3 linked regions of the Homo sapiens genome follow. The protein of the gene in region 1 purifies or fractionates together with the protein of each later gene. This does not show direct contact. Each region holds a gene or a part of one and is shown in the gene's direction. Other genes may lie near its edges.

What was found.
Region 2: the proteins of CYP51A1 (region 1) and CCNY purify together in Homo sapiens (affinity purification with mass spectrometry; 2 studies listed by BioGRID and IntAct, with this or other methods). This does not show direct contact.
Region 3: the proteins of CYP51A1 (region 1) and POTEI purify together in Homo sapiens (affinity purification with mass spectrometry; 3 studies listed by BioGRID and IntAct, with this or other methods). This does not show direct contact.

What each region holds. Positions count from the first base shown.
Region 1 is NC_000007.14:92,115,398-92,126,128, reverse strand, and holds part of CYP51A1 (lanosterol 14-alpha demethylase), read left to right. Parts: intron 1-2,275; coding exon 2,276-2,395; intron 2,396-2,813; coding exon 2,814-3,009; intron 3,010-7,513; coding exon 7,514-7,609; intron 7,610-8,916; coding exon 8,917-9,085; intron 9,086-10,731. UniProt on the Homo sapiens protein: Sterol 14alpha-demethylase that plays a critical role in the cholesterol biosynthesis pathway, being cholesterol the major sterol component in mammalian membranes as well as a precursor for bile acid and steroid hormone synthesis.
Region 2 is NC_000010.11:35,338,350-35,349,080, forward strand, and holds part of CCNY (cyclin-Y), read left to right. Parts: intron 1-10,731. UniProt on the Homo sapiens protein: Positive regulatory subunit of the cyclin-dependent kinases CDK14/PFTK1 and CDK16.
Region 3 is NC_000002.12:130,497,613-130,508,343, reverse strand, and holds part of POTEI (POTE ankyrin domain family member I), read left to right. Parts: intron 1-4,449; coding exon 4,450-4,564; coding exon of another isoform or gene 4,565-4,594; intron 4,595-4,724; coding exon 4,725-4,898; intron 4,899-7,701; coding exon 7,702-7,808; intron 7,809-9,122; coding exon 9,123-9,260; intron 9,261-10,731.

The sequences.
Region 1 (10,731 bases):
GAATCCCCTTTCTTCTATAAGAATTCAAGACAAATTTTCTTTATATAATGAGCTCATTTAAAGTAAGTTTCAGTTTATTAAAAAGGTGATTTGTTGTCTGTCTAGTCTAATATTTTATTTATGTTTTTGTTTTTGAGATGGAGTCTTGCTCTGTTGCCCCAGCTGTAGTGCAGTGGTGTGATCTCGGCTCACTGCAGTCTCTGCCTCCTGTGTTCAAGCAATTCTCCTGCCTCATCCTCCTGAGAGCTGGGACTACAGGCACGTGCCACCATGCCCAACTAATTTTTCTATTTTTAGTAGAGACAGGGTTTCATCATGTTGGCCAGGCTGGTTTCAAACTCCTGACCTCAGGTGATCCACCTGCCTCAGCCTCCCAAAGTGTTAGGATTACAGGCGTGAGCCACTGAGCCCAGCCTAGTTTAAAAGCCTGCTTACCTCACGTATTCCTTATCCTCAGGAAAGTCTCTGAACTATACCTAAAAGTGATACAGCTCTTCTCTAGCACTTGTTTGAAATCTTTGGTGGCTTTTTATTGTATTGTGAAGTTTCTTTGTTTTAAATATTTGTGCCTTTATTTAATTTTCTGTTTCTTAAGGACAGGGACTGCCTCTGATATAAAGAAATATTGCTCTTAGGACTTGATCTATAGCTTAGTGCTTAGTGTTTTGCATATTAGTAGGCTTTCTGTACTTTTGTTGATTTATTGGTGTTTAGGTGACAGATGGGGAGGAGATAGATTGCTAGTCCCTTTTCTTCTATTTCTGCCCCCTCTATCTAGTTACAGATTGGAAGAGGGGTGGGAGTAAAAGGAAGAGCCAGGAGAGATTCCCTAAAGTTCTCTGGAACTCATCATACCTTATATTTGCAAGGAGCTTTGCAGTTTCAAAATGTTTTCATATATCTTATATTAGAACACCCAGCACAGCCCTGGACTCATAGTGGGTTCTCCATAAATGTGCATTTCTTTTTTTTTTTTTTTTTTTTGGTGATGGAGTCTTGCTCTCTCGCCCAGGCTGGAGTGCAGTGGCATGAGCTCGGCTCACTGCAAGCTCTGCTTCCCAGGTTCACGCCATTCTCCTGCCTCAGCCTCCCGAGTAGCTGGGACTACAGGCACCCGCCACCAAGCCTGGCTAATTGTTTTGTACTTTTAGTAGAGATGGGGTTTCACCGTGTTAGCCAGGATGGTCTTGATCTCCCGACCTTGTGATCCGCCCGCCTCGGCCTCCCATAGTGCTGGGATTACAGGCGTGAGCCACTGCACCTGGCCCATAAATGTACATTTCTACCTGCCTGTTTCTACCTGCTCTGTCTCTTGGATGAAGTCAGAGCTTGCTATGTTAGGCCCTTCACATTCTGGCCCAGTCTTTCTTTCTTCTACTCATACCAACTAATTTAACCAGATTATTCAATTCACTTTCTTAAACAGGCCTATGTTTTCCTGGTTCGACTGTATTCATACAGTTAAGCCCCAACATCTTCTCTTCTGTACACATGGTTTCAGTTGATCCTCAATAACAGATTAACAGTCTTGTAAATGAAACAGAGTAGGAGTTTTTTTTAGAAGGCTTGATTTAAGAGGGGGCTTGGGAGTCAGACTGCCTAGTTTTAAATTCCAGCTCCAATGTTTGCTTTCTGTGTGATCTTATGCAGCTAGCTATAACTTGAGGTTAATAGTATGTACCTCACAGGAAGATAAAAGTGAGTAATTCATGTAAAACACTTAACATGGTACCTGCTACATAGTGAACATACTATTTAAAGGTAAAGTTTAGGAGTTGAAGCTTGTTTTCTGAATCTGCTAGTATTTTCACCCCCTACAAAAAACTATTGTATTAGAAAGTGAAAAGTAGAACCAGATTCCATGGAAGAACCAGAGTGACTCTTCTGCTTTAAGACTTGATTTGGTATTAAAATTGGAATTTTATGTTAATTTAAAAGAGTATCCTACTTTCTGTTGAACTGGAAAATACTTCTAAAGGAATTTCTTGCTTGTTTTAGGCCTTTAGTTTGAACACAGGCAATGTGTTAAGAATCTGGGATATATATGTTAAATAAAGCACAGTTCTTGCCCTTAGGGACTATGGACATTTTTAACAATGTAAGATTTTCATGACTTCCAGTATGTTCCTGGTTCTGATTTTTTTGTCAATTATTTTAGAGTCATTAAAGTTGGTTAAATAAGATGCTTTATGCTCGGTCCTGGTTCTCAAAATGAATTTGATCCTAGAAGGTTATTTCTTTATTTAAGAAAATCATCTTTATCTTTTAATTACAGACGCAGGGACAGAGCTCATCGGGAAATCAAGGATATTTTCTATAAGGCAATCCAGAAACGCAGACAGTCTCAAGAAAAAATTGATGACATTCTCCAAACTTTACTAGATGCTACATACAAGTAAGAGCTATTCAGATAACATATTAAGCTGAAGCAGGAAATTACACATTAAAACACAGTTAAATAGTATTTCCAGTTAAAAAACAGTGATGCTGGCAAAATAAGTTGGTAGCTGTGATCTTTGGACTCTTTAAATTGTTGAGACATAAACTATTGGCATCCTGTGTCTTACTGTAATCCCAGTGACTGGGTATGGTAAAAGTTTGCTAATGAACTGTAATGGAGTCTTTTGTAATCAAAATCGTTTTGTGCTGGTCTGTCTCTTCCCTAAGAGAAAAAAAACTCTTGACTTGTGATAGTCAAATATAAGAGACCACTATACCTGAAAAATGTATTCATTATGACACTTTATTTAAAGGTTGAGGCATGAAATGTATCTGCCAAAATGTTAAATTTGTGTCTTTGGTTCATTCCTTAGGGATGGGCGTCCTTTGACTGATGATGAAGTAGCAGGGATGCTTATTGGATTACTCTTGGCAGGGCAGCATACATCCTCAACTACTAGTGCTTGGATGGGCTTCTTTTTGGCCAGAGACAAAACACTTCAAAAAAAATGTTATTTAGAACAGAAAACAGTCTGTGGAGAGAATCTGCCTCCTTTAACTTATGACCAGGTTTGTTGGATTTTTCAGTTTCATTGCTGCCTTATGACTTTGAGGATCTGTGGCTAATTTTTAAAAGGGACAATTTGAGATTTTCTATATACTATAGCTTAAATTGATCAGCTTCTCTATTTTTAGCAAATTCCCTATAACCTTACCTAAAATATCTTAATGTTATTGCTTCTTGCCATTAAGCTTTATCAGATATGTTTTGGGTTGATGGCTTAGAGATCCTTGGGGATGTTTCTTTGGTACTTACTTCCTCTGCTTCAAAGTCTGGCTTCTGTACATAGAGGATATTATGTGCATGTTGTGTGTCTTATGAAGTGTAGAAGCCTCTGAATTACTTAGAATTCTGTATGTCCAGAGTGGCCTGGGCATGAGCAGAGACTTCTAAAAGTAGTAGTAGTAGTAGTAATGAGGACAAGACATTTACAAATACTACATGCAACTTGCTGGGTGGAAAGGAAGAGAGGACAACTCACTGCACAACCTGACATTCCATCTTGGAAGCAAACCTTGGTGATGTCATCTTCCTGTTATCTTTTGTGCTTTTGGTCCTATATTAATATGGCACATTACACTGATTTTCAGATGTTAATTGTATTCCTGGGATAAATCCTACTTTGTCATGGTGCATAGTTCTTTCTATATGTTACTACATATAAACTTGCTGGTGTTTTGTTGAGGATTTTTGCATCTATATTCATAAAGGATATTGATCTCTAGTTTCACTGTGATGTCTTTGACTGGTTTTGATATCAGGATCATACTCATCTCATAGAATGTATTTGGAAGTATTCTTTTTTTCTTCTAATTTTTGGAAGAGTTTGTGGATGATTGGTGTTAATCCTTTTTTACATATTTGCAAAAATTCAGCAGTGAAATCATCTAGATCTGTGCTTTTCTTTCTGAGAAGACTTTACTTACTAATTCAATTTATTTGTTACAGGTTTATTCAGATATTCCATTTCTTCTTATGTCAGTTTCAGTAGTTTATATCTCTCTAGGAATTTGTCCATTTCATCTAGGTTACCTAATTTGTTGGCATACAATTGTTCATAGTATTCTCATAATCCTTTTTATTTCTGTAAGCTCAGTAGTGATGTCTCAACACTCATTCTTGTTTTTAGTAACTTAAAATAACAGCTTAACTGATATATTTACATAGCATAAATCCATCCATTTAAAATGTACACTTTGTGGTTTTTAGCATATTAAGAGTTGGGAAACCATCATCATAATTTAATTTTAGAACATTTACATCACTCCCAAAAGAGAGCTGGTACCCATTAGCAGTCATGCTTCATTCTCCCTGACTGCTGCCCCTGGCAACCATTAATCTCCTTTTGCCTCTGTGAGTTTGCCTATTCTGGATATTTCATGTAAATGGGATCATACAATTTGTAGTCTTTTGTGACTACCTTGTTTCACTTAGCATGTTATCAGGGTTCTTCCATGTTGTAGCATGTATCAGTACTTCAGTCTTTGTTATTACCAATAATATTCCATTATATGGATAGACCACATTTTGTTTATTTGTTCATCAGTTGATGGACATTTGAGTTGTTTCCACCTTTTAAACTATTATGAATAATGCCGCTCTAAACGTTTGTGTACTGATTTTATGTGGACATGTGTTTTCAATTTTGGGGGGTCATACCTAGGAGTAGAATTGCTGGGTTATAAGGTAACTTTGAAGAACTGCCAGACTGTTTTAAAAAGTGGCTGCACCACTTTCAAATCTCACTAAACAGTATATGTTGGTCCTGACTTCACCCCCTCACCAAACTTGTTACTTGATTTTTTTATTATAATAGGTGTGAAGTGATACTTTTTTTTTTTTTTTTGAGACAGAGTCTTGGTGTGATGCCCAGGCTCTAGTGCAATGGCGCGACCTTGGCTTACTGCAACCTCGGCTTCCCAGGTTCAAGCTATTCTCCTTCCTCAGCCTCCCAAGTAGCTGGGTACACACCACCACGCCTGGCTAATTTTTGTATTTTTGGTAGAGACAAGGTTGTACCATATTGGCCAGGCTGGTCTTGAACTCCTGACCTCAAGTCATCTGCCCGCCTTGGCCTCCCAAAGTGCTGGGATTACAGGTGTGAGCCACCATGCCCAGTTGGTATTTTGTTTTGATTTTGCATTTCCCTGGTGACTAGTGATGTTGAGTGTCTTATGATGTGTTCTTTGGCTTTGGTATACTTCTTTGGAGAAATGTCTGCTCACATCCTGTTCCCATATTTAAAATGAGTTGTCTTTTTATTATTGAGTTGTAAGAGTTCATCTATTTTTTTTTAATGTGCTTTTGGTGTCAGAGAAACTAATGCCTAATCAAAGTGTATGAAGATTTATTTCTGTGTATTCTTCTTAGTGTTTTGTAGTTTCATATCTTACATTTAGGTCTTTGATCCATTATGAATTAATTTATGTATATGATGTGAGGTCATCATTCTTTTGCATGTGTTTATCCAGTTGTCCCACACTGTTTGTTGAAAAGACTATTTTTTCCACGTTGAATTGTCTTTGTAAAAAAATCTATTATAGCCAGGCGCAGTGGCACGTGCCTGTATTCTCAGCTACTGAGAAGCTGAGATGGGAAGGTCGCTTGAGCTCAGGACTTGGGGTCCAGCCTGGGCAACATAGCGAAACCCTGTCTCTGAAAAAATAAATACATTTTAAAAAGCCTCTTGACCATAAATTTAAGGCTTTATTTCTGGACTCAGTTCTATTCCATTGATATGTTTAGTCTGATGCCATTACGTAGTTTTGTAATAAGTTTTGAATTCGGGAGTGTGAGTCCTCTGACTTTGTCCTTTTCAAGGCTGTTTATCTACTCCTAGTCCCTTTAGTTTCCATATGAATTTTGGGGTCAGTGTGTCAGTTTCTGCAAAGAAGCTAGCTGAGATTTTTGACAATGATTGCATTGTATCGCCATATTAATTTGGGAGCACAATTTTAGTCTTTAAATCTGTGAACATGAGATGTCTTTCTCTTATTTTAGTTCTTTAATTTCTTTCAACAATGTTTTATAGTTTTTGGTGCACAATGTTTAAACTTCTCTTGTTAAATGTATTCTTAAGTATTTTATTATTGTTATTTTTTTGATGTTATTCTTTCTTCTGCCAGTCCAAATCTGCTGTTGATCCCCTCGGGTGAATTTTTCATTTCAGTTCTCATACTTCTCAGTTCTTGAATTTCTATTTGGTTCTCTAAAAAAATAATATATTGATATTCTCCATTTTACTAGAGATATCTAGGCATATTTTGCTATAGTTCTTTGAACCTGTTTATAATAGCTGATTTAAATTCATTATCTAGTAAGTCCAATGTCTGGGCTTCTTCATGGATAGTTTCTATTAAACTGCTTGCTTTTTCTATGTACTGGCCATACTTTCCTGTTTTGGTGTGTTTTTTGTAATTTTTTTGTTGAAAACTGTACATTTAAAATAATGTGGCAACTGTGGAAATCAGATGCCCTCCTCCCTGGGTTTATTGTTGCTGGCTCTTTGTTGTTGTTGTTGTTGCTGCTGCTGTTTGTTTACTGCGTTTCCTGGATTAATTATGTCATTCCTTGTTCAGTGAGGTCACTGAAATCTCTGCTTGCTTACTTTAGTGGGCATCTAATATTTGGACAGAGATTTACTGAAGTGCTTTGAACAGCCAGTCTCCTAGCTTTTGCTGAAAGGCTCTGTATGTGTGTGTTAGGGGATGTTATTAACACTCCAACAGGCAGTTACAAGTCTGCCTTCACTACCTGTGTGTACAGGTCAGCCAGAGGTAAAAGATTACAGCCTCTTAGATCTTACCTGGGCATATGCATGGTCTTATACATATGTGTGGCCTTCAAGATTCTCTTATGTTGGAACTTTTCAAAGTCTCCTGTGGACATCTTACTCCCCAGTTTTCCCTTTTAAACTTCTTGTTCTGTCTCTTAGCACCAACTGATATCACCATCTCAGGCGCCTTCAGTGTTAAACAATTTTTGCTAAATATTTTTGGAAAATTTGCTCTGGCTCCTCTAATAGTTGTTAGGCTTCTGGCTTTCACAGCTGCTATAGTTGTCATGCTGTTGGTTTCCGGGGCTACCATGGATTTGGGGAGAGGAGGATGAAAGAAATACAACTTACACTACCACAAAGCTTACTCTTCTTACCAAGATTCAGATTTCTTTTTCTTGAATTAACTCTCCTTAGATTGTTGCAAGCCTTTGGTTAATCTTCCAGAATTTTGAAAAAGTTGACATTAAGATTGTTGCTACTGTTTTCATTTTTTGGAGGAGTGAATTTTTGTAGGTTCTTACTTCATTCTTCAGGGCAATCGCTTCTGTTACCTTGCCCTCCTTTTTCACCATGGACAGTGGTAGAGCATGATAACCCCAGCCACCCTGAACCAGTTACCTCTGTACTTTTAGCTGGAATGCAAGCTGTCTTGTACTAACTAAGAAGTTAAACTAATTTTTTGTACTGTTGAAGTATGTTATTTATAACAATCAGGAAATGCTTTCTCATTTTAGCTCAAGGATCTAAATTTACTTGATCGCTGTATAAAAGAAACATTAAGACTTAGACCTCCTATAATGATCATGATGAGAATGGCCAGAACTCCTCAGGTGAGTATCTTGGCTACATCTTCCCCTCTATACCCCCAGTTTTTATCAAAAAGAAGAAATAGGTGGGTGTGGTGGTTCACACCTGTAATCTCAACACTTTGGGAGGCTGAGGTGGGAGGATCACTTGAGGCCAGAATTTGAGACCAGCCTGGGCAACATAGTGAGACTGACCTCATCTCTACAAAATTTTTTCTAAAAATTAGCTGGCCATAATGGCACATGCCTGTGGTCCCAGCTGCTTGGGAGGCTGATGTGGGTAGATTGCTTGAGCCTGGGAGGTTGAAACTGCAGTAATCCATGATCACGCCACTGCATTGCTGCCTGGGCAACAGAGCAAGACCCTGTCTCAAAAAAAATAAAAATAAAAAAGAAAGAAAAAGAAAAGAGGAAGTAGAGTAGCATAAAAGAGATTTTTTTAAATTAAAAAAGTAGAATAATCACTTCTACCTAATCTTCAGTTTTATATACTCTAAAAACATATTTTTACCTAATTGTAGATAGTATACGTGCTAATCTGTTTTTTTTTTTTTTGAGACGGCATTTCACTCTTGTTGCCCAGGCTGGAGTGCAGTGGTGCGATCTCAGCTCACTGCAACCTCCGCCTCCCGGGTTCAAGCAATTCTTCTGCCTCAGCCTCCCAAGTAGCTGGGATTACAGGGGCATGCCACCATGCCTGGCTAATTTTTTGTATTTTAGTAGAGATGGGGTTTATCCATGTTGGTCAGGCTGATCTCGAACTCCCGACCTCAGGTGATCCACCCGCCTTGGCCTCCCAAAGTGCTGGGATTACAGGTGTAATCCCGCGCCCGGCCTACATGCTAATCTTTAATGCTAATCATGTTCTGCATTTTTCTTTAACAATTGGGGTTTTAAAAATCAAAGTACATATTTTTCTTGGTTTTAAAAATAACATTTTGTTGTAAAAAATTGTTAATATGAAGTGTACAAATTGATAGTGAAAGCCTCTCTGAAATTCCAACCCTACCTCCAAGGCATTATGGGTTTGATTTGTGTACTGTGTACTTCCAACCCAACGCTGGCTCACTGGAAATCATCTTGAGTTAAAATAATTTTTAGTTTGCCTATTATCTAGCCAGTTTTTAAATATATGTACAGATGGTTCTTGATTTATGTGATTCAACTTATAATTTTTTGACTTTATGATGGATTTATCAGGATGTAAACCTATCATAAGTCAAGGAGCATCTGAGTATCCCATGTATATTCATGCTTTATTACACAATGATCTGATTATTTGTCAGCACATTTTTAAATTCTCTAATGAAATGTGTGGCTTTTGTTTATAGACTGTGGCAGGGTATACCATTCCTCCAGGACATCAGGTGTGTGTTTCTCCCACTGTCAATCAAAGACTTAAAGACTCATGGGTAGAACGCCTGGACTTTAATCCTGATCGCTACTTACAGGATAACCCAGCATCAGGGGAAAAGTTTGCCTATGTGCCATTTGGAGCTGGTAAGATGATTATATTTTAGATTGGAAATGTTTGTTCTGATAACATATTTGTCTCTGTCAAAATATTCCGAATTGTGTTTACAAATTATCTCTCCCTTTCCTCATAGGGACATTTTTGCAAACTTTTTTAGGAGAAGAATCTTTATAAGTTGGAGAAAAATATTTCCTTTGTACCAAATGGAATTGTTCCATAAATCCTTATATAATGCTTCACTACTTCCTAACCTGTCTGGTTTTATTAGGTCTAATTTTTATAGAACATCCTTGTTTTCCCTTACAATGGTATTTAAAGCTCTTTGTGGATTCTCTTTTAAAGAACCATTGGAGTCAGCACACCATTCAGGGAATAACAGATTACTAGCATTTCACAAAAAAGCAAAGGCAGTCTTTTAAAATTAAAGCTCTTCTCGATCGTTAGTCAACATTTTTGCTCTCTGAATATCCGTATGAGAAAATGGTCTTTAAATTTGGGCAGGTTGTGTGTAGGCTTGCAAATTTCATTTCCAGTAAGATCCTAAAATAATTTAGCTATACCCTTGTTTCTCCAGTAATTTCTCTGTCCATTGGTTCTCTGTACTGATTAAACTATATTCTATGCTTTAGTCTTTCCAAAGGGATCATTTAAATGACAGATGACTTGTCATTGGTCACACTTTTTCCACATATAAAGGAAAATATAAAGTCCTTTGGGAACTTCAGATCTTAACTTTATGTAATAAATTTAATACTGTGGTGTATAACACAATATATAAAAGAATCATAGTTTTTTTTTTGAGAGAGTCTTGCTCTGTCACCCAGTCTGGAGTGCAGTGGCACAATCTCTCAGCTCACTGCAACCTCCACCTCTGGGTTCAAGTAATTCTCGTGCCTTAGCCTCCTGAGTAGCTGGGATTACAGGTGTGTACCACCACGCTCAGCTAATTTTTGAGCTTTTAGTAGAGACTGGGTTTTGCCATGTTGGCCAGGCTGGTCTCGAATTCCAGGCTTGAAGCAATCTGCCCACCTTGGCCTCCCACAGTGCTGGGATTACAGGCGTGAGCCATGCCACCTGGCCAAAGAATCAGATTGTTAACAGATGGGAAGAGCATTAGTTCTGTAGCCCAAATTCTGCCCCAAAGAGGAATCGTTTCTAAACTAGTAATTATCTGGTTTCCACTTGAACTTTACTAGAAATGGGTTGTGGGTTGTTCAGTTACCTTTTATGATGGCTCATTCTATGTTTGGACAGCTGTCATTTTTAGAGCCTTATGTTAAAGCTGAAATCTGTTTCTTTTTAACATCTCATTTATAGTTGGTCCTAACCATAGTCTCTGAACTTATATTGTATGAGGTATTTGAGTACAGATATAATGTCTCCTCCATCTTTTTTTCAATCTTTGTGTTAGTTTCCTAGGGCTTCTGTAACTAATTACAATATGGGTGGCTTAAAACAATAGAAATATATTCTATCACAGTTTTGGAGGCTGGAAGTGTGAAATCAAGGTATTGGCAGGACCGTGCTCCTCCTTAAGGTTCTACAGGAGAATCCTTCCTTGCATCTTCCTAGCTTCTGGTGGCTCTTGGCAACCCTTGGCTTGTAACTACATTGTTCCAATTACTACCCCTGTCTTCAACAGGCTTTCTTCTTGTTCATGTCTCTGTATCTT
Region 2 (10,731 bases), on another chromosome or scaffold:
TAAATGAGTGCCATGTATAAAGGGAGTAACACAACGTCTGGTTTCTAGTACGCGCTTAGTAAATTATGGTTCCATATGACGTGTCTAGTGTTGTTATTTTAGATTTCCATTATTTTAAACATACGCTTAGATGTCTTTGAACTACAGCCATACTTTCTTCTTAAATTTATGCATTTAAAGGCATCTAGAAGGATGAAGGCCAGATCGGTCTTGATCACTTTCACAGCCTCTAGCACCTGAAAGAAAAGTCTAGCATATAATAAACAGTAAGTATTGTACTTTAAAGGGAGGAATAAATGAATGAGTTTATTACAGAAAGCCATTACCCAGTCCTATACTATGTTGACAGGCGAAAACATTTGGAAATAATGTCTTCTTTATGATGTGCAGTAAATTTCCTTTTTATGTTGTGCAGTATCTAGCGGAGGCTTTGTTTTGAATGATGGATCAAAAAAGAAAAAAAAGAAGATTTACATTTCTTAGAGCCAGGCTGCATACAGTTATTATAGACTATTGTAAGGAAATAAGGTGGAAAAAATAAGTGTAACCAGGTATTTGGCACTAAGGCTCAGTACAATTTTGCCAGAGTACAGTGAAATGATATTGTGTGTTCTTTCATTTCAAAGAAATCTTAAGTTTCAGTCATCAGGAATTTTTGAGAGAATGTTTGGAAGACTCTTTTGCAGATTCAGGATAGTTTGAGAGAGTATAGGGCAGGTTTCCAATCTAGGCTGTGGAGTGCCCTCTCATCCCAGATCCCAGTTCATATGATTATGCTAGTTTAAACCCCGAAATATTAATTCACCTTCTGTCTCTCAAATTCAATAAATAATACTTCTAGCATTGACCCAGCCAGCAGTTCTCAACATTGGTTTCAGTTAAACCAGAAATCTAGTACTGGACATTGCCATTAATATGTTTAAATCTCTCCAAGGTGATTCTGAGATGCAGGTAGGCCTGAGAATTGCTGGCTGGGCAAATCTTGGAAGTGTTACCTGCCGTTCAGGGACATTTTTGGTAGAAATTCATTATTAGAGGCTGAGAGAAGAGAACAGGTTTTAATTAAATAGAGTGTATATATATACACACTATATACATCTATATGTCTGTATTTGCTCATCTATATCTGTATGTATTTGAACTGAGTTATATTGATTGTTAGGTTATTAGTAAACATTTTAAAACTACATTTTAAGAATCATTGACTCTAGTATATATCAAAAGCTGAAGTACTCAAATACCATATTTTTTATGTCCTGAAAAACATCCCACCCAGCTGGTTTAGAAAGGTTTGAAGTTCATGGGTCTTCTATGATAGGTTAGTGTCTTTAAATCACAGAGATATGACATATGTATCCATGCTTTCTTCCCTTTGTCACCAGGCACATGAAGGGGTAATACTTGTCCTGTAGAATTTCAGTAATTTTAGTGTCTGGGAACTTAGGTGTCTATGGTGCTTAATGGCAACTTAATGTGTCTTTTTGCTCAGTTTATCTTAGTGTTAGGTTATTCATGTTTTTGAAATTGATATTGGACTCATGCTTTCCAGGTATTATTTCTTATAAAATCATTCAGAGATTGAGAAAAAACAGCAACACATAACAACAATAGTAATCTTCAGAACAATTCTTTAGGAAAATAAAAAAATGATAGTAATAATTGCAGCCTATGTATTACTTACTCTGTAGCAGCTGTCACCAGCTGCCGCTCTAAGTACTTGGATTCCATTCATTTACTTAGAACTCACAGTAACCCTATGGGTAATATTACCCTTACTTTAAGACAAAGAAATGAGTCACTGAGAGGAGAAATGACTTGTCCAAAGTCACACAGCCAATACATGGCAAATGGAAACTTTCCATTGTTGCTTGACTTAGCCATCAAACGTTAGCTAGTCTGGGGTTGCCTTCTGGGATAGGGTGTCTTGTCATTGCAGTCATATCCATACTTTCTCAAGGATAAACTTCTTCTGTCTGCAGCAGTTATTCAGTCCAGACTTCCAGGATTAGATTATTTCTGTGGGAGGAGAAAGGGAGGGAGGGACTAAAGAGAATTTAAAATGTGAGGAGACCAAATAAATCAGGATACTTGTAACAGCTGTACCATAGTGTCCTTGTAGGGTTTTACCTTAAAATGGTTGATGGCAACTTCATTCTTTTTTTTTTTTTTTTTTGAGATGGAGTTTTGCTCTGTCACCCAGGCTGGAGTGCAGTGGCATAATCTTGGTTCACTGCAACCTCCACCTCCCGGGTTCAAGCAGTTCTCCTGCCTCAGCGTCCCAAGTAGCTGGGATTACAGGCATGCGCCACCACGCCTGGCTAATTTTGTATTTTTAGTAGAGATGGGGTTTCTCCATATTTGTTATACTGGTCTCGAACTCCTGACCTCAAGTGATCTGCCCGCCTCAGTCTCCCAAAGTGCTGGGATTACAGGGGTGAGCCACTGCTCCTGGCCCACTCTTTTCATTTTTATAGTTTACCTGTCATCCTTGACAACTCACTTTCTCCCTCGTCCTGTATCATATCTGGTAGGAAAATGTGGCTCTCTGCCCTCAGAATATATCAGACTTTGACCACTCTCAAGACCTCTGCTGCTGCTCTTCTGGAGATTTAAGCAGCTGCCATCTCCCCCAGCCCACCTGGTCTCCCTGCTTCCACCCTTGCCTGCTCCAGTCTGTTCTCGACACAACAGCCATGGCTAAGATCCTTTAAAAAACTTGAACTTATTCCTTCACTCAAAAACGGCAGTGACTCGTTATTGCACAAGTAAAAGCCTTACAGTGGTCGCTGGGGCCCCTTGGGATCTGCCTGCCATCAGCTCACTCAGTCGCTTGCTCATTCCAGCCACATTGGCCTCCTTCCTTGCCCTTCCTGGAACATACCAGACACAAACTTCCACCCCGTTCTCTCCCTCTGCCTGAAGTGTCCTCCATGTGCTCTCTTGGCTGAGTCCCTTTATCACCTGCAGCCTTGGTTCAAGCCTGACCTTTTCAGGGAGGCCTTCCCAATCACCTTTAAACATCCTTTCTGCCGCCCACTGGCAATCCCAATGCATATTCCCTGCACTCCTGTTTCTTTATTCCTTAACACTTTATGATATACTATATAAGTATAAACATAAATACTAGCTACTAGCTACTAGCATGTAAGTTCCAATAGAACATTTATTGTTTGGTTCACTGATGTAACCAAGTGCCTAGAGTAGCACCTGATTCCTTGAAGATACTATAAATATTTGTTGAATGAATTTGTTGAGTGAAACCAACCATTGAAGGATGTGAATGAAAACATCATCGCGTATGTTTATTGGGTGAGGGGAAACAGGAGGCAAGGAGAATGAAGAGGACTTGTAATAATGAAAGTAGCGTGGATGTGAAACTTTTTGGCTTTGTAGTTTAACCTGAGAGGTAGCAGATAGGGTGAAGTACTGAAAATGAAACTTAAAGGTTTTAAAGCTTAAAAAGAAAAAAAGCATACCCAGGCTGAAAGGAAACCTGGCTAATGGGAATCTGTTTAATAATGTGGTATGTTTAGTCTTTTTTCCTTGTTTCTTTCAACGAATGACTTTAGCTGTGGCCTTACATCCTTAAGGATCAAATTGAGACTCAAATGCTCAATTAACCAAAAAATACTAGATGAACATCTGCAATTATGAACATAGTCACTTATGTTGATTTTCTTGTCTGAAACATGAAGTGTCTAATGGGATATAGGTACATGGTGTTTTGGCTGTCTACAGCCAGAGAAGCTAGAAGCCTCAGGGACTCATCCCAAGCAGCGGAGGGATAACTGGCAAAACTGCTTGCCGTTAGAAGAGTGGGGACACAGGGCAATTTGAAATCTAAGTGCCTGTAGGATGAGCTTGCATATTGCTCTTGGCTTCCTTGAGTCTCTACAATCTATTTAACATCACCTCTGCAGCACTCTTTCTTGAATCTTGGTCCCACATTAACATTACCAGCCCTGGTGGGCAGAACATACCGTGGACTTTCTTTCCAGGCTAAGACTTATCAGCCCTGCTGTCTGCAAGGTATGTGGAGACACCCCGACCAAGCATGTGACTTCATATTAGTTAGCAGTGTGGAGAAGTGCAGTTTAAAGATTTGTCAAGAGAGCCATTCTCCATAGCACTGACCATGGGTCCATGACCTGTCTCTGCTTACTTTTCATGTTTCTCTTTCACTTAGAATCAGGGAGTCGTTTGCTTCCACACACCCATTTTACAGGTGGGAAGACTGAATCTCAGAGAGGTGTAGTTTCTTGCCCAGGTCATGCAGATCATGGATGATGGTAGTAGAATTTACTTTGTTAATTTTCGGCCAACAACCGTGCTAATTACTTGACCTGTATTGTTTTTCTTAGTCTTCTTATCATTCTCCCCATTTTCTAGGTGAAGAAATTGAGCCTTAAAGGTTAAGGCATTTGCGGAAGGTTCCTCAGTTTGTTAGTGGCAGCTGGGGTTCGGTCTGCTGTCAGCTTGCCTCCATGCCTCAACTGCCCTGTGACAGCTAATTAGAGAATGATCCGTGTCTAGAATCTGAACCTCCTGATGGCCTGGCCCAGCCCACTTTGTTTCAAGAGATTCATAGTTATTGCCTATATGCTTTTGTCTAGCAATATTTTGTGTAAGGACTTTTACTTTCCTGCCTGCCTTTTTTTTTTTTTTTTTTTTAAGACAGGGTTTTACTCTCTCGCCCTGGCTGGAGTGCAGTGGCGCGATCTTGGCTCACTGCAACCTCTGCCTCCCAGGCTCAAGTAATTCTCCTGCCTCAGCCTCCCGAGTAGCTGAGATTACAGGTGCACGCCACTACTGCCCAGCTAATTTTTGTATTTTTAGTAGAGATGGGGTTTCACCATGTTGGCCAGGCTGGTCCATATGATCCACCCACCTTGGCCTCCCAAAATGCTGGGATTACAGGCATGAGCCACTGCGCCCAGTCTCCTGCCTGCTTTTTGAGAGTAATGAAAATTAAATAATTCCATGGAGTGGTAGATTTTCTCACCTTCTCACCCTCCTCTACAAAGCTGATGGTCTTTTTTTTTTTTTTTTTTTTTTTTGAAACGGAGTTTCGCTCTTATTGCCCAGGCTGGAGTGCAGTGATGCCATCTCGGCTCACTGCAACCTCCGCCTCCTGGGTTGAAGCAATTCCCCTGCCTCAGCCTCCTAAGTAACTGGGACTACAGGCACGTGCCACCACGTCCGGCTAATTTTTGTACTTTTAGTAGAGACGGGGTTTTGCCATGTTGGCCAGGCCGATCTCAAACTCCTGACCTCAGGTGATCTGCCTGCCTCTGCCTCCCAAAATGCTGGGATTATAGGTGTGAGCCACAGTCTCCGGCCTGATGGTCTTGCTTTTACATTTCTGGCTAGATGAAACTAATGCAAGGATTAAATTTATTTCTATCCAGCAAGGGGCAGAACCAAAAAATACCAAGAAGCAGGATATGTGTGTGGCTTTGAAATTCTGTTTTAATCACATAGGGTCAGAGATTTAGCTCCAAGTGTGTCACATTGGATTGACTTTGAGGAAACAGTGCTATTTTTCACAAGAGGGCTATTGACAGTATCATACTTGTCACACTTCAAAGTGTGAATCCTTTCATGATTCAACATTGGGCTGTGAGGGTAGGTCCCCAGCAATGACAGTTGATGTAAGTCCCTCATCCTTTCAGTATTATTTCCAGTTTATAGCTGGAAGAAGGGTGAGAGTTCACTTTCCCTGCAGCATTTCTCATCCTCTTCAGATGTTGAGTAGTTTGTTGCTTGGAGCCTTGGTCAGGAGACCATTTCTTCTCTGATTCTCAGCATTATTCTAGCCTGTCTTTCCTGAAGAAAGGAGAGGCTCAAGGAAGGTAAAGTCAGAGAAGGCTCTTCTCAGGGGATTTATAGGGTGTGCTCCCAGCTCTGTGAAGTATGGTGGAGGGCAAAGAGAGGAAGCCTTGTAATGGGAAGACCCGCATTCCAGATGAGGTTCTACTTTTACTGAGGGGCCTCCGTCCTGCTGAGCCTCACCTTCCTCTTCTGCTTAAAAAAAGTGCTTAAAAATACTGCCTTGCCTTGGGCTGGGCGCCGTGGCTCATGCCTGTAATCCCAGCACTTTGGGAGGCTGAGGCAGGCGGATCATGAGGTCAGGAGATCAAGACCATCCTGGCTAACATGGTGAAAACTGGTCTTTACTAGAAATACAAAAAAAATTTTTTTTTCAGTTGGTATACTTTATTTCTTTTTTACTTTTTAAATTATACTTTAAGTTTTAGGGTACATGTGCACAATGTGCAGGTTTATTACATATGTATACATGTGCCATGTTGGTGTGCTGCACCCATTAACTCGTCATTTAACATTAGGTATATCTCCTAATGCTATCCCTCCCCACTCCCCCCACCCGACAACAGGCCCCGGTGTGTGATGTTCCCCTTCCTGTGTCCATGTGTTCTCATTGTTCAATTCCCACCTATGAGTGAGAACATGCCGTGTTTGGTTTTTTGTCCGTGCGATAGTTTGCTGAGAATGATGGTTTCCAGCTTCATCCATGTCCCTACAAAGGACATGAACTCATCATTTTTTATGGCTGCATAGTATTCCCTGGTGTATACGTGCCACATCTTCTTAATGCAGTCTATCATTGTTGGACATTTGGGTTGGTTCCAAGTCTTTGCTATTGTGAATAGTGCCGCAATAAACATGCATGTGCATGTGTCTTTATAGCAGCATGATTTATAATCCTTTGGGTATATACCCAGTAATGGGATGGCTGGGCGAAATGGTATTTCTAGTTCTAGATCCCTGAGGAATCACCACACTGACTTCCACAATGGTTGAACTAGTTTACGTCCTACCAACAGTGTAAAAATGTTCCTATTTCTCCACATCCTCTCCAGCACCTGTTGTTTCCTGACTTTTTAATGATTGCCATTCTAACTGGTGTGAGATGGTATCTCATTATGGTTTTGATTTGCATTTTAAAAAATTAGCTGGGTGTGGTGGCGGGTGCCTGTGGTCCCAGCTACTCAGGAGGCTGAGGCAGGAGAATGGCGTGAACCCAGGAGGCGGAGCTTGCAGTGAACCGAGGTAGCGCCACTGCACTCTAGCCTGGGTGACAGTGAGACTCCATCTCAAAAAAAAAAAAAAAAACTGACTCGCCTTACACATTGAGGTAGTACTATGAGGATCCAAATGAGGCTAAAATGCTTAAAAAGCCACAAAGTACTAGATGAACTTATGTCATTATGAATGTGGTACTCATATTGATTTTCTTGTATTATATGTGAAGTGTGCTCCAGTATCTCCACCTAATTATGTTTGGACTGTCCATAGTTGGAGAAGCTGGAAGCCTAAAGAGCTTATCCTAACAAAGACATCAAAGCAGGCTTCAAGGCAGTCCCAGAGCATAACTGTAATTTTAGAGCTGGGTAGGGTAAGGTTATATAGAGCTGTCTGACCTTTGAGTGGGATGCTTGCTGGCTGTAGAATTTGGAATAGAAATACTATTTCTCAGATTCATTACTCTTCTGAGTTGCATCTTTCTGAAGTCAGTGTGATGCCACACAGGAGCAGTGGGATGAATATTTGAAGAAGCTTTCCCTGACTCCTGGGGTAATGGAACCCACCCAGGCTGTCTGCTAACTGTGTCCCCGGAACCACATTCCTAGGAATGTCAGCATGCACCCTTAGGTGTAAGCTGGAGCCAGGGCTTGCTTGCTTGCTTATTTATTTATTCAAAGAATAGGATTTTGAGGCATGCATAAATATGCTTTATTATATTAAAATACTGCTTTTTAATAAAGGGTAGTTGGTTACCTAAAATAATAAGATCAAGCGTTCCTCAGCAGGTTATTAGGGGCTGTTGTTCTCATTTCTTTTAGGAAAGGAATCTAACTGGCTAGACCCACAATTGCAGGGAGCTCAGGAGATACCCCACCCACCTTTTCTTTCTTGCTGTTGGCTCTGTGTGTTGCTGGTAGCTGTTGCTAGGCTCTCTGTCTCCCTTTACTTTTTCTAGGGGCTTCCTTTGCTATTTGCCAGCTTGGAAAGAAGGGTGTGCTAAAGCTAAAATTGAGCATGTCAGCCTGGCAAGTCACATTGGTGGATCCCACACATCAGCAAGATTTTGCCTGTAAAGTCTCTTGATGACTCTGGCAGAAGAGGTCATTTCAGGGGTTGGCCAACTCCAGACTGCCACTTTGTTGCCTTGCCAGGAAGGTTGCTTTTCAAATAGATAAGTGGAAAACCTGTAAATCTGTTTTTTTCACCTTTGTCAGAAGATGGACATTCTATACATTAGGTTTTACTGTTTTTTTGAGATGGGTTTTGTTCTGTTGCCCAGGCTGGAGTGCAGTGGCGTTAGCTCACTGCAAACCTCCGCCTCCTGGGCTTAAGTGATCCTCCCACCTCAGCCTCCTGAGTAGCTGGGACTATAGTCGTGTGCCACCATGCCCAGCTAATTTTTGTATTTTTTGTAGAGACAGGGTTACGCCTTGTTGCCCGGGCTGGTCTCGAACTCCTGGGCTCAAGCCATCTGCCCGCCTCGGCCTTCCAAAGTGCTGGGATTATAGGTGTGAGCCACCATGGGTTGCCCCATTAGTTTGTAAAGAAACTTTTTTGTTATTGTTTTGTTTTGTTTTGTTTTTTAGTATGGTTTAAAAACTGATCTGAGAGGCAGTTTCATAAAAGAAATTGTAAAATGTTTTGGGCCATGGTAACAACTCTGGGCTGAGTCTAGTCTCCCATGGTTATACTACTTGCATTAAAAAGTACTTCACTGCAGACACATTATCCCTTATTGGGGATGTGTAGTGGGGCTTCAGACACATTGTCCCGTACTGGGGATGTATAGTGGGGCTTCACTGGGTATGGTGTATTTGAGTGGCTTGCTCAGCAGAGATGTGTGAGCAGCTTAGACATGTCAGCTGGCTCCTGGTACTGAGAGAAATACAGCTGGGCACAGTAAGGAGAATTGTTAGCAACTACAATCACATCCGTGCCAGTTTGCTTTGTGAGCTTTGCAGAAATCCCAGTTGGGTGGTGAAATGCAAGTCACTTCTATTTTGGATGCCTCTGATTATAGACCTTCTGACTGTTGAAGGCTGACTAGGAAATACTCTGCATGGGAGTTCTATGTAATATAGCTATATGTTTCAAAACTGTGAGTGCAGTGCTTACAACATTTTATAAGCAAGTTCTTTATTTTGGGTGGATGCTTCTGTTCTTGGTGGTCAATAAGGAAAAAGAGCAGTTATTAAGGATATTTTGTTTATATTTGGTAAGCTCCTTGTCTCACACTGCAGATTTAACATGAATCAGAGGAATTAGTGTATGGGTGGGTAGGATGAGTTCTGTTTTTTGCTTCTCAAGAAAAGATTTCACTCCAAATTTAGAATTCTGTCTATTAATGATTATATGATCTTAGGATTTTAATTGACTTTCAGGATTTTATTGGATACATTTATTCCAGTTAGTGCAATGATAATAATCCTTTAAATTATTTCTGGTTCTTACAGTAGGTTTGTAAAATTTGTGTAGTTGTTTAAAAGTCCAGGTTTTACAGCTCCTCGTCTGTGTATCCTGTCAAAGTCCCGGAGGAGAAAGAAGTCATGGTGCTGTGTTTAATCCAGTTTCAAAAATTTCAGACGCACATATTTATCAAGGATTCCTTTCATTTACAGTGAGTGTTAACTTTTGTCAGTTTAGGGATAATCTTATTTTTCCACAGCCTTTTTTCCCTCAAGCTGTGAACCGTTATTGCACCATGTAGTGCTTGTTGCTCTTTTGCTTGCAAAGTGATGATAAGCAGTTTATATAGCATTAGAGATTGTGTTCTATATTCTGAAAGCCAAAGCTGATGTTATTGAAGAGTTACAAGTTGTTTATTCACTCTAATGTTAGCAAATATTCGACTCCCACTTTTCTGTAAGATAAGTCTGATGTCTGATTTGTCATTTCTCCTATTTGGTGGTAGGGAGTCTGGAGGAAGCCTAGCAACCTTGCTGTTCAGAAAGGATGATGCCAGGCATAACCACGGAGGGGTCCATCTGAGGGCTGCTTTGCGAACCACTGGCTTCTGAGGAAGATTGTTGGTTCCGTTAGGGCACATATCTTAAGCACCGTGTGTGCTCTGCAGGCACACTTGGCTGTTGGTTGAGTTCTCTTCTGAAGCAGGAGGATACGACTTCGTCACTCACAGTACGAAGCTGCCTGCAGTCTCTGGATGTTGGAAGTGTAAGATGTGAGCAGAGAATATGAGCAGGAGCCCCCGTCCAGGGTGGGATGAGTCAGGGAGGACCCCATTGCAAGATAGCAGGGCTCTGAAAGCCCGGCAGGGCCCTGAGAGGTCAGCAGCAGGCAGCCAGAAGTAGGTTGGGTGCTTTTATTCTTAGCGATGTTTGGGTGCCTGTGTGCTGTGCCCTGGAGAATGGTTCGGGCTGGACAGCTAGCATGGCAGTGATTCTCAGTCAGGGATGGTCTGAATCTGGACACAATTTCCTTCTTTCATGGAACTAATATTCTGAGAGAAACAGTTGTTGAAATCTAAGTTGGGTTTTTTTTTTTTGAAAATGAACCTTACTCTTGTATCCAGGATATTTTGTAAGGGAGCATTGTAACAGGAATCCAGTGACCCTTGAACAACACTAACTTGAACTGTGCGGGTACACTTCCATGTGAATTTTTTCCAACCAAACCAGGTTGAAAATGCAGTGTTCTCGGGATGTAAAATAGAGGGCCGCCTTTTTG
Region 3 (10,731 bases), on another chromosome or scaffold:
CATCAACTTCAGGGCTAAATATTCTTCAAATAAAATCCAGTATGGATTTTATATCAATGTACCCTATGTAAATACGTTCTTTACTGAGGAACCTTAGAAGGAAACTGAAATGGGAAGATGGTTCCTGTGCTTGAATAGGAAGATTGAATTTTCTTAAGATGTGAGCTTTTTGGCTGGGCGCGGTGGCTCATGCCTGTAATCCCAGCACTTTGGGGAGGCGGGCGGATCACGAGGTCAGGAGATCGAGACCATCCTGGCTAACACGGTGAAACCCTGTCTCTACTAAAAATTATAAAAAAAATTAGCCGGGCACGGTGGCAGGTGCCTGTAGTCCCAGCTACTCAGGAGGCTGAGGCAGGAGAATGGCGTGAACTCGGGAGGCGGAGCTTGCAGTGAGCCAAGATAGTGCCACCGCACTCCAGCCTGGGAGACAGAGCGAGATTCCGTCTCAAAAAAAAAAAAAAAAAAAAAGATGTGAGCTTTTTCTATTTATCACTTTTACATAAGCCAAATAAAAATAGCAAAGTTTTAGCGTTTTTAAATTACACATGCTGTCTTTTATTATTGTGATAAATTAATTTTTTGTAACAGAATGGAAAAAGGCTTGCTTTTCCAGATATCAAAATGTGCATGTGTTATTTATTTCCACAAATTGTTTACTAACAGCTGAAAAGACATCAATGAATAGAACAGAATAGGAAATTTAGAAATACCCAAATATATGTAAGAATTTAGCACTTGATAATGGTGATGTTTTGTATTATTTAAAAAAGATGGATTGTTCATAATTCATTTTTGGAGAAAACTAGCTAGATTTTTATGTCACAAAAATAAGAGTATAGATTAAAAATTTTAAACATACAAAAGGAGAAACATACCAGAAAAAATATAAATGCCTATTTATATACGCAGATATATATATATATACATATATATACACATATATACATATATATACATATGTATATATACATATATATGTGTGTGTATATATATACATATATATGTGTGTGTGTGTGTGTGTGTATATATATATATATATATATATATATATATATATATATATATATCCTTTTTTTTTTGGTGGAGTCTCACTCTGTAGCCCAAGCTGGAGTGCAGTGGTGTGATCTCGGCTCACTGCAACCTCTGCCTCCTAGGTTCAAGCAATTCTCTGCTTCAGCCTACTGAGTAGCTGGGATTACAGGCGCCTGCCACCATGCCTGGCTAATTGTTTTGTATTTTTACTAGAGATGGGGTTTCACCATCTTGGCCAGGCAGGTCTTGAACTCCTGTCCTCGTGATCCACCCACCTTGGCCTCCCCAAGTGCTGGGGTTACAGGCGTGAGCCACCGTGCCTGGTGTATATATGCAGACATAATAAAATAAGCTCATTTTAAAATTGGGCAAAGTACTTTTTTTGCATATCTACCAGTGACCTATGCACATAGGAAAATACAGTGTTCCTGGTAGAAGAAGGAATTTAAGTTAGAAGAGGAATGAAATACTGCTTTCTATTTAAGTTAGAAGAGGAATGAAAGGCCGGGTGCAGTGGCTTACGCCTGTTATCCCAGCACTTTAGGAGGCTGAGGCGGTGGATCATGAAGTCAGGAGTTTGAGACCAGCCTGGCCAGTGTGGTGAAATCCCATCTCTACTAAAAATACAAAAAATTAGCTGGGCATGGTGGCACGCACCTGTAATCCCAGCTACTCAGGAGGCTGAAGCAAGAGAATTGCTTGAACCAGGGAGGTGGAGGTTGCAGTGAGCCGAGATCGCGCCACTACATTCCAGCCTGGGTGATAGAGTGAGACTCCATCTCAAAAAAAAAAGAAAAAAAAAAAAAAAGGAATGAAATACTGTTTTCCATCCACAAAGTTTGTGAGGATGAAGAACAGTGGTACTTATGTAGTTGTTTAAAGTTTAAGTTGCTGCAGCTTTTCAAACAGACACTTTAGTGGTAAGAACTACATTTTAAAAATGTGTATGCTTTTTACTTATCAATTCCATTATACTGAAATATCTTTACGAAATAGATGTGTTTTTCTTAGTATTGCTTAAAATAGCAGTGTATTTAGAAGAACCCATATAAAGATTTTATGAACAAATTTCAGTGCATCCATAGGATGGAATAATATGTAACTATTGAGGGTGTCAGTAGATACAGAGATATGTCGACGTGCAAAGATGTACTTTGCTATATCAAGTGAGAAAAAAATCAGTTTGTTACACATATACACGAACAGAATCTGCTCGTGTTAGCTGCAAATCTGTAGAAAATATAATCAAACTTGTTTCTGGGGATTTGTAAGTGAAGTTTTTCCCTTTCTCTTATCTGTGATTTCTGCAATGAACATCTGAAGTTGTAGTTAAGGTTCATTACTAATGCAATAATCCTTGGGAAGAGAAGGAATATGCTTCTTGCATAGATGCAAATAATTCCTCACATTCTATTATTTATTTTTATTTCTGTGGTTGGCTATTTTCTGTGAACTTTTACCCTCTTCAGAAGAAGAGGGGTCGTGTTTACCTGTTCCTGTAGATTTTATTATATATACATTTTATTCCATAATTATCTTTTCATTATATATAGATTAACATGTAAAAAGTATGAATTAATCATTTTAGTTGAGTTATATATTTATGAAAATTAAAATAGCAAATATAAATGATTATTGCTATTGCAAATGTATTGCGCTACTCTATAGGAGTTTTCTTTAAAAATATTGAACTCCCAAGCTGTGTTCATCCATTTTTCCTATCCATTTAGTCATCAGACATAAGCCAGACACCTATTATGTGGCAGGCATATTCTACTATCTCTCAGGATCCTTCCGTCTTTGAAAACTACATGTTTTCCTGCTGGGCTTGAGCAAGCTGAGAGATTTAAAATTGGGGCATTAGGACTTAATCTCAATTGAAGCTTTTCCTCCCTCCTTTCAAACAAAAGCATTTCTGGAGGTAGAAAATAGTAATAGATAACCTTTAACTGCCCTTTTGAAAATTTATGTCTTGGGGAAAAGACTGTTTTAGTTGTTTTAAGAACTAAAATGTGGTACATAAACAGCATGGAATAATATGCAGCCATAAAAGAAGGAACGAGAGCATGTCCTTTGCAGGGACATGGATGGTGTTGAAAGCCATTATCCTTAGCAAACTAACATAGGAAGAGAAAACCAAATACAGCACGTTCTCAATTACAGGTGGGAGCTAAATGATGAGAACACACAGATACCTAGAGGGAAGGAACACACACTGGGGCCTATCAGAGGGTGGAGGGTGGGAAGAGGGAAAGAAGCAGGAAATAGAATGAACAGGTACTGGGCTTAACACCTGGGTAATGAAATAATCTGTACAACCAACACCCTTGGTGCACATTTACCTATGTAACAAACCTGCACATCCAGCACATGTATCCCTGAATGTAAAAGTTGAAAAAAGCTCCACAAATAGTTTCATAAATCCATTTTAAAACAAGAAAATTTATAACAGTCTTAAATCCTAATATGAATGATTGGAAATATCTGATGTACATACATTGTATAAATCTAAGTGTTGACAAAAATGAGCCCATGCTATTCATTTGAATTCCAAGTTTTCTTTGACTTAAAGTTTATTGAAAACCAAAGTAAGAATTGGTTTATTTTAGAAATTTGTTTTTGTTTTCACCTCTGCTCTCTTATTCCATAGTTCTTTTAGGAACTAAAATTTATCTAAATGCTGGTCATCTGACTGGAACCGCCCCAGACCTGTTGTAACATATTCTACTTAATGTAAGACACCAGGGATTGTATGATGCCCCATTATTTTATGCCTCAATAAGAGAATTATTTAAATGCCGCAAATTATAGTAAATCATGAATTGTAAGTGGTATTTCAGTGGAGACAACATGGAGACAATGATCATCTCAGAATCACTAAAATACAATGTTAGCTGTAATATTTAAAACACACCTGAAAGTGCAGGTATAATTGTATCATCTCAATTCAAATGTTGTCTTTAGTGGTATTAGTAAAAATTAAAATATCTAACAATTATTGAGCTGTTATTTGTGTTAGGAACTATTCTATATCTTTTGTGCAGAGTCTCATTTAAGCATTACAGTGGTTTCCCGTAAGAAAGCTACTATTTTCATTCCTATTTTATTGATGAGGAAACTGAGACCCCAAAAGGCTAAGCAACAGCCAGGAAGTGACAGAGCTTCAAGTAGGATTCCAGCTCAAGTTGAATGTCATCCAAGGGCTATGCTCTTTGTATTCATATAGGATGCTCTTTCATTAATACAGCGAGTAAAGAGAGATAATAAATAGTGTGCTTTTTTCATGGGAAAGTTAAATGTTTGTTTTGAAGGCAGAGTAATAGCAGGCTATTCAGTGTTTGCAATTACATGAATCATTGCTATGGCTGTAGCTAGTGCACTACAATTTCCTAAAAAGTCTTGTCACTCTCATAGGACTGCTCTACATCTGGCCTCTGCCAATGGGAATTCAGGAGTAGTAAAACTCCTGCTGGACAGACGATGTCAACTTAATGTCCTTGACAACAAAAAGAGGACAGCTCTGACAAAGGTATGCAGTAGCCAACTATATCAGCATGAGGTGGGTTTGATTTCAATACATAGCATAAAAATGAGTTTTCTCCTTTAAATATAACTTAGGTGGTGAAAGCTGTGGAATGTTATTTTGAATTCCTAGGATTTGTAATTTGTTTTTGGTCTAATACTGACAGGCCGTACAATGCCAGGAAGATGAATGTGCGTTAATGTTGCTGGAACATGGCACTGATCCAAACATTCCAGATGAGTATGGAAATACCACTCTACACTACGCTATCTACAATGAAGATAAATTAATGGCCAAAGCACTGCTCTTATACGGTGCTGATATCGAATCAAAAAACAAGGTATAGATCTACCAATTTTATCTTCAAATACTGAAATGCATTCATTTTAACATTGACCTGTGTAAGGGCCAGTCTTCCATATTTGGAAGCTCAAGCATAACCTGAATGAAAATATTTTGAAATGACCTAATTATCTAAGACTTCATTTTAAATATTGTTACTTTCAAAGAAGCATTAGAGGGTACAGTTTTTTTTTTAATGCGCTTGTGGTAAATAATTTTTTTGAAAGCACTGAATTTGTAGAAGGTAATACTTACTATTTTTCAATTTTTCCCTCCTAGGATTTTTTTCCCCTAATGAATGTAAAATGGCAAAATTTGCCCTGAAATAGGTTTTACATGAAAACTCCAAGAAAACTTAAATATGTTTCAATGAATAGAGATCCTGCCCCTTTGGCAAGTTCCTAAGAAACAGTAATAGATACGAAGGTGATGCGCCTGTCAGTGGCAAGGCTTAAGATATTTCTGATTGCTCATGAGGCAGAAGTGGAAAGCGGAAAAGAGAGCAATCAGAAATATCAAGGCCAATTTGGAAATTAGGTAATAGAGGGAAAAGACCATGAAGAGGTTGTGTGTGTGTGTGTGTTGTCGTTGTTGATTGATTTGTTCCCTTTGTATGTTGAGACAAGGTTCTCTTCAATTTTAGAGAATGACAGTTTTCAGTTTGGGAGAGGGAGTTAGTGGGTTGTAAACTGAATAGAGATCAATTTTAGGAGGCCTCTGAGGAACCAGATTGGCAGTGAATAGGTGGTAATGTAAGGGGAAACCCTTGAGCAGAGGGAATATCAAGTAATTAACTGACTTAGTATCCTATTCTGGTAGAAATGGCCAATTAGAGTCTCAGCTCTGCTTTCAAATCTAGAGTGTCTGGATGGGAAGGTGGAAGATAAATAAGTAACAAGATCAAGTTGGATTTTGAGTTGACTAGACCCTGTTCTTCTCTTACCGGGGAAAATCATGTGGTGTTTTCAGCAAATGGGTCTCTCTCCTACTCCTTACTCTTTTTGGCCAAATCTTCAAATGAGAAAGGGAACTGGTCATATGGGTGAGAAATGAGACTGAAGTAATTGTCTGTTGCACTAGCTTTCAGCTAGAATTGTGCATCCCAGTAACCTGAGGAAAATGTTTAAATAATCAACAAGTCTAGGCTTTTTCTGAATATTTTGATACAGTAAGTCTAATAAAGCCTGGATATGTATATTTGAAAATGTTTCCTTGAAGCCAGGCATGGTGGTGCATGGCTGTAGTCCCAGCTGCTAGGGAGGCTGAGGTGGGAGGATTGCTTGAGCTCAGGAGTTCGAGTCTAGCCTGGTCAACATAATGAGACCCTGTCTCTAACAACAACAACAACAACAACGACGACGACAACAACAACAATTTTCTCAAAATCTGGATACACTCCTGCTTAAGAACCACTCAATACATAAATGTAATATGTAAATTCTTATGTCTCAGAAACTTAAGGTATCTCTAGAAGAGTTGGGGTTGGATATGTGCTGATTTCTTTAAATCTTTCCAATAACATTAATCTGACTTTTTTTTTTTTTTTTTTTTTTTTTGAGATGGGGTCTCACTCTGTTTCCCAGGCTGGAATGCAGTGGTGTGATCACAGCTCACTGCAGCCTCGACCTCTCCAAGCTCAGATGGTCCTCCAACCTCAGTTTTTTTTATTTTATTTTATTTTTTTTATTTTTTTTTATTTTTCAGTAGAGATGAGGTTTTTGCCATGTTTCTCAGGCTGGTCTTGAACTCCTGGGCTCAAGCGATTCACCCACCTCAGCCTCCCCAAATGCTAGGATTACAGGTGTGAGCCACCATTCCTGACCTAGTCTGACTTTTATCTCTGTGGTTGAGACCTTAAAATGAATATTATTGGTAGTATGTATCAGCTTACAGAATAATACCTTTTCCTTTCTACCATCAGTTATTCACTGCCATTCAGAAGGTCTTTAGAAATTTGCTGTGAGTATGGCCCTCTCAGGATTTTGTGTCTCTTTGTTCAGTCATTCAAGTACTTAGGTCAGTAAGTCGTTAAGAGCAGAGTTTTCTCAATTAGAATTGTAGCAAATTCTAAACCATTTTTTGTCAATTGACGCTGTATTATGGACTATCCAGTGTGTCTCTTAAGTATGTAGAGCTTTGGCATAATCAGCATGGCAGTTTTAAACACTAAAAACCATGGAGTTATTAAGAATACAGATAGGAATTCTGTTAATTTAGTTTCAGTAGTCCTATGAACTGATGGTTTAGTTAACAATCTGGGAAAATTAAATACAAATAGATTTTAAATAAATAAATGTTGGAAAATTTTTTCAAATGGGCAGTATGAGTTTTAACAGCAATTTTTGTTGCATGTTGGAGGTTGAACTTTTGGTAAAACATGAAACTAAAGAAATATTTTACATGCAGATTCTTGCTTTATACACAATTTGTCTTAGGGTTGAGGATATAGAGACAAAAGATACAGCCCCTGCCCTCAAGAAGCTTTTTGTTTAGATGGGAAAAATATTATCATCCAATAACACCATGCCAAATGCTGGTTTAGAAGCAAAGAGCCTTGGAAGCAGTAAATGTTTAAAGTGAGTTTTTGAGATGATTAGAGGTACTGTGGTGAGGCAGAGAAGGGGTGTTTCCAAGGGAAGGAGCAGCGTGTGGGAAAGCACAGAAGAGTGAGAAGGAAGCGACTACATTTTATTTACTTCTATGCGTGTAAGTCCATAAGATCTTATATAAAGTTTCCACTTCGGTTGAGGAATATGTACTTTTTTGAATTACATAGGTTTTTGCTTTATATTGTTTTACAGCATGGCCTCACACCACTGCTACTTGGTGTACATGAGCAAAAACAGCAAGTGGTGAAATTTTTAATCAAGAAAAAAGCGAATTTAAATGCGCTGGATAGATATGGAAGGTATAGTTCTTTCTTTTAATCTGTGTTCTAGATGGATAGCAGTCACTCAAGTCATAAATATTAAATTAATAAGATTAATGTATACTTACTGGGATGTAGTGATCAGTATCAACACAAATCAGTTAGGTAGAAAAACAATTACTTGGACTGGGCAACATAAAGAACAGTTTTAGTAGGATTCGTCTTCTCATTATATTGACTGATGTTATTTGTTATGTGACGTTTTTGGTTACATGATCTTATGTTAGCTAAAGGCATTTCATATTAATTTTATGAAGTTTGAACTTTAACTTTTAGTTTACTTTATGACTCAGTATTGAACTTCTTAACCCTTTCTAATAGTTTTTAACCTCTGTGTCTTACATGCTTTTCCACTAAATATACTGTATTAAACATAAATAGGGGTTGAAAATCCTTTTGTCTTTTCAATGACTCTGCTTTAAGTTGCTTTCTTTGAAGAATATTAATGTTAGCTTATCGCTACATGACAATTAATTGCTGTTCCCACATACTGTGGGTTCAACAGCTTTTTTCCTTTTTTATTTCCAGTGTATTTTGGTGTTTTTAGTTTTAATTGGTATGGAGAGAGGGAGTGAAGATAGTTTTAAGTGGATACACTTTTCCTTTAATGAAGGCAAGATGTAGGTGGGTGATAAAGAGAAAAGAGCTAGGCTTTGGATTCACACAAGACTGGGTTAATTCCTAACTTTCTTACTTGCTAGGTGTGTGACCTTGGGGATGTTATTTACCACCAAATGTGTTGTCATGTATGAAAAGTAGGAGAATATATCCTTAAAAGTTGGCTGTGCATAAGTAAGAAAGATAAATGTAGGATTTAATTCAGTGCCTAGCACATGGTTATTGGCACCATTAACTGAAACTCCTATGACTACTATTCTTACCATTGTTAATATTACTGCTTTGAGCATGCAGAGAGCTCTTATTTCTCTTACCCCCTAGCTGATTTTCTATTACAGCATATCTGTCTAGGGAAGCTGTGACAAACTCTTCACTTAAATCTTTGTCCACTTCAGATAAGTGGCCCTAACATTGTTTCTTGCCCATCAAAGGATGTTAAATTAGTAGCTTCTGCTATGCAATACCCCACTGAGATAAGAGGGTTTTTTTTGGTCCCTTCCTTTTAACTTTTGTGGTATTTTACAAAGATGAACACTTGAGCACTCAAGATGCTTATGTCTTTTAGTGCATGTAAATGTTTGATTCTGCACAGACAGGCAAGATGTTACATTGGTAAAGTATATCAAATTAGCTTTAAAAATAACTTTATTACAGTTCCTATCTCTGTCATTTTAGAACTGCTCTCATACTTGCTGTATGTTGTGGATCAGCAAGTATAGTCAGCCTTCTACTTGAGCAAAATATTGATGTATCTTCTCAAGATCTATCTGGACAGACGGCCAGAGAGTATGCTGTTTCTAGTCATCATCATGTGTAAGTGTTCACATTAAAAGGCTAGTTAATGCTGAATTGAGGTTTAAAATAATTATAACAGTTGCATCTGACATATCAGGTGAGATGTCATAGTTTGGTTCAGGTAGTTTTCGCGTGGCAGTGAGTTAGTCCCCTGCATCAGCCAGAAATCAGACAAAAAGCAAGACAAGTTAGAAGTACCAATGGGTGCGGGATTCTTTATCTCAGGACTTTTAAGATCTTTATCCTTAGAGATCCCAGCATTGTTCATTTGATCCAAGTGTAACACCTATGCATGGGATAAAAAATAGTGTCACATCTTTAATTTTTCTGATTAGTTATTTGGGTCTTGAAATGTCCAGTTTAGCGGAAAGTCTTGTACTGTCTTCTGGGCACTATGTCCTACATACTCCTTGAATTTTTCAAGAACCGAAGGGGTTTACTAAATCCAAGGAAGACAGTCCCTTTTATCAAGTCAGAAGGAGGAGGAAAAAAGACATTGCAATCATTCTGTTGTTTCCGTTGATTCTGTTGCTGCTTTGTGGCCACTCAAACTGGTCCTGCTGCCTTAAGATGAATCAGTAGATTCAGATCCCTCAAGTCTTCATGGCGATTCATACAGTGACTTTGATGTTTTTTAATTCCCATACCTATGCTTATATGCTCAGCCATTGTTCCCAGAGCACCAGCCCCCTGCTCTGGCCGCTGGGCATCTTGACTTTATCCGCACACAAAGTGACCAAATTGACCCTTCCCCACATATTCAGAACCTAATGTGGAACCCACATCTTAGCCAGGAATTAGCTGAGACCTTCATGGTAAGAGATCCTTTGAGGCTGTTGTTGGTCTTTTCTCTAGCAGATATTAGGTGGGCTTGTTCTAAAGGGTGAGAGGGGTTCAAATAATGTGGCAGAAAGAGATCAGTGTTTGTTTCTTCTTCTTTGCTACCAGATCTGTACTGTGAGGCACCTTTATATCCTGTATAGAACCTTGGGCAGTAGAAAGTCCCATATGAACCTTCCCCTGAGCAGTGGCTCCCAGCTGTGGTTGGCCCCTTGAGTGATCTGATTTACATGATAATGAAAATCGTGGAAGCTACTTCCATCTCTAGCTCAAGATTTTAAAATATTTTCAAACTCTAGCTCACAGGAAGCCATTGAAGAGAATTCTCAGAATCTCAAGTAGGTTAGTTGGACTTCACAGAGCCAAGCCTTGTCCATGACGCATCACTAATCATGTGTAAAAGTAGGGCTTTGTGCTTGCTTCGGCGGCACATATCCTAAAATTGGAACAATACGGGGAAAGTTAGCGTGGCTTCTGCATAAGGAGGCAGCACAGATCTTTGAAGCATTCCATATTTTGTGCAGTCACTGGAAGGTCATTTGACTATTTGCTGACTAGCTCTGAGGAAATAGTGTGAATCAAAGCAAAATGGGTGCCACCCAAATATTGAAATTGTGATTTCTGCTGCAAAAATAGTCATGTAAGATGG